Regions from separate parts of the Homo sapiens genome. Here region 2 is linked to region 1. The links come from fine-mapping of genetic effects on gene expression. Tissue or cell type: whole blood. Region 1 holds a variant in brackets; the other region holds the start of a gene. All regions are shown on one strand. Distances are from middle to middle.

Evidence for each region. PIP is the estimated chance that this variant, and not a neighbour inherited with it, causes the effect.
Region 2: NUAK2 starts here. The variant in region 1 is fine-mapped to the expression of NUAK2 in whole blood (TOPMed, PIP 0.99).

Annotation. Positions count from the first base shown.
Region 1 is chr1:205,291,495-205,294,180 of GRCh38, reverse strand. No RefSeq gene overlaps it. Among named protein-coding and RNA genes, the nearest start is that of NUAK2, 29 kb to the left of the region's middle. RefSeq lists enhancers at 1-264, 2,261-2,500. The variant A/G (reference allele first, on the strand shown) is at 1,346.
Region 2 is chr1:205,320,619-205,323,304 of GRCh38, reverse strand. It overlaps NUAK2 (NUAK family kinase 2), which reads left to right and starts at 1,560. Exons shown (of 7, transcript NM_030952.3): 1 at 1,560-1,907. The coding sequence starts at 1,677. RefSeq lists a silencer at 1,874-2,053.

The DNA of each region.
Region 1 (2,686 bases):
GCAACTTCATACTCACAGCAGGCTAGTTACTGGCAGGGATCCCTTCTCTGCTAAGGGACCCCTGGCTTGCCCTGTCTCCCAGTCCAATGTGCAGTCCTCTGTGAATCCAAGAGCCATTGGTGAGGCCAGGTGGGGCCTGGGGAGAGCCTGGCCTGCCAACAGGGCCTCACATGGTGGCCGGGCTCACCTGAAGACCTGTTTGCCAAAGTGAGCAGCCTCACTTTGCTGCTCAGAAACCTTGCTTATCAACAGGCTAGGAGGCTCAGGAGCAGACTCACTGAGCTCTAGGAGAGGAATGGATTCAGCCAACATGCCAATTCATTCATTTCTAATGAATAACAAAACCCCTGTCAAACCAACCAGATACTTGGGTTTGCTGATGAGCACATTCACTGCCTGTGGCAGTTTCACACAAGGGTATTCGGAAGTTCAGTGGGAAGTCTCCTTGAAGAGCATGGAAGCTGGGCTAGGAGAGCTGGTTGAATTGGTCTTCATGGTGGTGCCAACCTCTTTGTCAAGATACATCTGGTAACGCCGTTCAGGACACCCTGCCCCAGCGCAGCTTTTGGGAGCGCCTCCCCACGCACGTACACATCGGACATCACAAAGACAGCCTTGCTGGGCTAGCACATTCTTCCCACAGAGTGCATTGCAATGACTTAGAGAGTCACTTTCACAGTCAGCTCACACCCATCACATTACTGCAAGGATTAAATGAGACAACACATGAACATGCTTTTTAAGCAATACATCACTGGAGAAAACCTAAGGAGTGAGAACAGGTACTCAATAAATGTTTAATAAAGGGCCTCCACCCGCTTTCCTGGCCCCAGCCCCTTATAAAGGGGAACTTGATAGTTAAATCAAGTGAAAACCCATTCCCTAATAAACACATCAACATTTATTAAGACCTTACTATTGTTCTAGGTGCCATGGAAAATACAGAAGCAATTGAGGCACGTCCCCTCCTTCAAGGAATTTACTTATAATAAAGTTGGGGCCATAAACTAACACCTACAGGATGGATGTTAACAGCACAGAGGTGGCTGGGCACTGTGGCTCACGCCTATAATCCTAGCACTTTGGGAGGCCAAGGCGGGCGGATCACCTGAGGTCGAGAGTTCGAGACCAGCCTGACCAACACGGAGAAACCCCGTCTCTACTAAAAATACAAAATTAGCCAGGCACATGCCTGTAATCCCAGCTACTCGAGAGGCTGAGGCAGGAGAATTGCTTGAACCCGGGAGGCAGAGGTTGAGGTAAGCCGAGATCGCACCATTGCCCTCCACCCTAGGCAACATGAGCAAAAACTCCATCTCAAAAAGAAAAAAAAAAAAAACAGCAC[A/G]GAGGTGAGTGTGCCAAGGGTGTGTGTAGTAAGACGCCCCAGTTCCACTGGAGCTGGTTGTCATGGGACTGCTTGTGTTGACGTGGCTACACTGAAAACTGGCTGTTTTCGGTCCCCACTCTTGCGTCACTGGATTGGTCAGTCAAGGAATAAGCCCCCCAGCTGTGGGGCTCTGCACGCCTGGGCCCAGGGGCAGAGTTAGTAGAGCAGATATTTGAGAGCCCAAGTCATTCCTCATAAGCAATGTTAGCCTTGCTGTCCCAGCCCTTGCTGGAAATGCCCACGAGGGTCAGAATGGGCAGACAGACTGGGCGTGGTGGCTCACACCTGTAATCCCAGCACTTAGGGAGGCAGAGGCGGAAGGTAGCTTGAGCCCAGGAGTTCAAAACCTGCCTGGTCAATATCTCAAGACCCCATTCTCCACAAAAAGGGGGAAAAAAAAGAATAGGCAGACAGATGCCAGGTAGGGGTGAGGAGTGGAGTTGGTCAACTCCCTCCCTCGCCAGTCATGGTTGGGGGTGGGGTGGGCAGCACACGGCTGGCTCCTTGACCCTGGCCTCCCACCAGGCTCACCCATTCTGTCTTTCCGCCTAGCAGGGTTGACTTTCTTTAGATGCCTCTTTAAGGCTCCAGGAACACAGAACTGCAGTTCTGTCCTTCACAGCTAAGTCAGCTTGGTCCACCTCACAACTGAGTCCCATACCCAGGCCTTTTGGGGCAGTCTCTCTAGCCCCAAGATTCCCCACATCTGCACCACTCATCTCAGAAAAAAGAACAGCTTGGAATTACATTAAATTATGTGTGTGGTGTCACATCATCCCCCATCCCAAATTAACTTGCGGGGCAAAGGAGTAGATACCGATCACCACTGAAGTCTCTGGCATTGTGCTAGAGCACTGGTTCTCCAAGTGTGGTCCAGGAACCCCTGGGGGAACCCCTGGGGGCTCCCCAAATCTTTTCAGAAGGTACACACAGTCAGAAGTGGGGTTTGTTGTTGGTGGTGGTGGTGTTATGAGACAGGGTCTCGCTCTGTCACCCAGGCTGGAGTGCCGTGGTGTGATCATGGCTCACTGCAGCCTTGACTTCCTGGGCTCAGGTGAGACCACAGGCACGTGCCACCACCCCTGGCTAATTTTTTGTACTTTTTGTAGAGACAGGGCCTTACTATGTTGCCCTCGAGGCTGGTCTCGAACTCCTGGACTCAAGTGATCCACCCAACCTGGCCTCCCAAAGTGCTGGATTATAGGCCTAGAACTGTTTTACTAATAATAAGGAAACATCATTTGCCTTTTTCACTCTCATTCTCTCATGAGTGTACAGTGGAGTTTTCCAGAGATTCAC
Region 2 (2,686 bases), 29 kb before region 1:
TCCCGCCACTTTATTACCAGTTGTGTGGCCTTGGACAGAATAATACTCATTTCACAGGATTAGGTTATCAAGATGGCCAAAGGGGAAATGTTCCCTTTCTGCCATTTAAAGCAAGAAGGAAAACCTATGGCCATTCTCATTTCACTGTAAATGAGCACTCAGAGTGGAGATTCTGGACCTAGCAACTCCAGGCCTCAAAAACTAAGTCAAGCTGGGCGCAGTGGCTCACGCTTGTAATCCCAGTACTTTGGGAGGCCGAGGCGGGCGGATCACGAGGTCAGGAGATCAAGACCATGGTGAAACCCTGTCTCTACTAAAAATACAAAAAATTAGCCGGGCGTGGTGGCGGGCGCCTGTAGTCCCAGCTACTCGGAGAGGCTGAGGCAGGAGAATGGCGTGAACCCGGGAGGCGGAGCTTGCAGTGAGCAGAGATCGCACCACTGCACTCCAGCCTGGGCGACAGAGGGAGACTCCGTCTCAAGTCAAACCTCATAACCTACCACCAGTGCTCCTGGCACCAAAATCACAAGAAAACCTTGGGTGGAGCAACCATTTTCAGACTTAGGGACACAGGTTAGATAGTCGGCATGTAAAAATGTTAAATAAATATGTATCCCTTCGGGTTCTCTCCACCTCCAGCCGACACATCCTAAATAAATTCCACTAAGTGGTTGAGGGAATCTACTAAACCTTAGAAGCCCTCTTTTTTTTTGAAACGGAGCCTCACTTTGTTGCCCAGGCTGGAGTGCAGTGGCGCCATCTTGATTCACTGAAACCTCTGCCTCCTGGGTTCAAGCGATTCTTCTGCCTCAGCCTCCAGAGTAGCTGGGATTACAAGCGCGCACCACCACGCCCGGCTAATTTTGTATCTTTAGTGGAGATGGGATTTCGTCATGTTGGCTAGGTTGGTCTTGAACTCCTGGACCTCAAGCGATTCGCCTAAGAAGCCCTCTTTGAGGAAGAAGGAAGAAGTTTCCAGGGCCATTGGATTCCAATATCCAAGTAAGGTTGATCTAACTGAAGACAAGTGAACTCGAACCATAGGACAGCTCTGCACTAACCCTCCCACTAGGCTGGATTCTGCCTCTGTTCCATCCCAGCTCCCTTTCTCCTTTATGGACTCAATGAAGTGGTCAAGCAATTATAGATTTTGGCTTGGGACAAGCAAATTACTCAGGATGAAGAAATACTTTGGTGACCTTTAGTGCCCTCAGATCGCCCCTTGCCAACTGAGAACAGAGTACAATAAAACAACAGGGCATTAAGCAGGACCAAGCGCCACTCAGAGGCAAGTGCAGCTCCAAGGGCCCTCAGAGTAAGCTTCTGGGCCTCAGGCGGCCTTCGCTGGAATCCCCTAGTCCCCATTCCTGGTGGGCGGGTTCCATTGACACCTTTCCCGGCCACGCCGAGGGGGAGGAGGCGGGGCCTGGAGCCCCGGAGAGCCAATGTGGACGGCCGTGGTCACGCGCCGCCGTCGAGCAGGCCAATGGGCGCCGGGGGGCGTGTCCAGGGCCTCGGGCTCAGGGCGTTTATAACAACTTGGAATGCTGTGCTTTACTGCGCGCTCTGGTACTGCTGTGGCTCCCCGTCCTGGTGCGGGACCTGTGCCCCGCGCTTCAGCCCTCCCCGCACAGCCTACTGATTCCCCTGCCGCCCTTGCTCACCTCCTGCTCGCCATGGAGTCGCTGGTTTTCGCGCGGCGCTCCGGCCCCACTCCCTCGGCCGCAGAGCTAGCCCGGCCGCTGGCGGAAGGGCTGATCAAGTCGCCCAAGCCCCTAATGAAGAAGCAGGCGGTGAAGCGGCACCACCACAAGCACAACCTGCGGCACCGCTACGAGTTCCTGGAGACCCTGGGCAAAGGCACCTACGGGAAGGTGAAGAAGGCGCGGGAGAGCTCGGGGCGCCTGGTGAGTGCGGCTCCCTCTCGCGGCGCGGGGCGGGCTCCGGCTTGGCCGCCGGCAGGGAGCGGAGGAGGGCGGGCGGCGGCTCGCTCGTTGCTCGGCGGAGAGGCCAGCGTGGTCTTTACCGCGCTGAGCTTGCGGGGCTACTGCGGGGTGTCCCTGGCAGATGTGTCAGTCCGTGATTGCAGGGACAGTGGTCGCAAACTTGCGAACCCCAGCCAGCAACACCGTACTGCTGTGATGATTGCCAAATAAAAGGGAGGCTATGGATAGTTGGCGCGGAAAAACGAATCGTGTCGTGTCCTGGGATAAGATGGATGGGACTTAAGTTGAGTTTTGCTGGGAAAAGACTGTTCAATAGAGTGCAATGGAAAGAGGAAGTAGAAGGCACCCCATCTTAATAGGTATTTGGTAAATATGTGTGTGGTTGAATGAATGGATGAGGTGTGGATTTCCCCAACTCCAAGAATCTGGCAACCCAGCACACTGGAGCTCTGGCACGGGGTGGGTTTTGACATTTAGGTCCTTTCCAGCTCTAAAATTTAGTTGAAATTTCATTATGATGAGTTTTTGATTCTGGAAAATGTGAAACCAGGTCCACTGTACCAGAGACACCTTTCGGTTTGGGGGCCTTTTCAAGAACATGCCCTGTTACTTTGGTGCGAGCGTAGGAGTCTAGCAGTCTGTGTGACCTTGGGCAATTTCCTTCATCTCTGTACTTTGTTTCCCCTTTTGCAGAACTGTAGAAAACACAGCCTGCCTCACAAGCTGCTGTGAGGATTGAA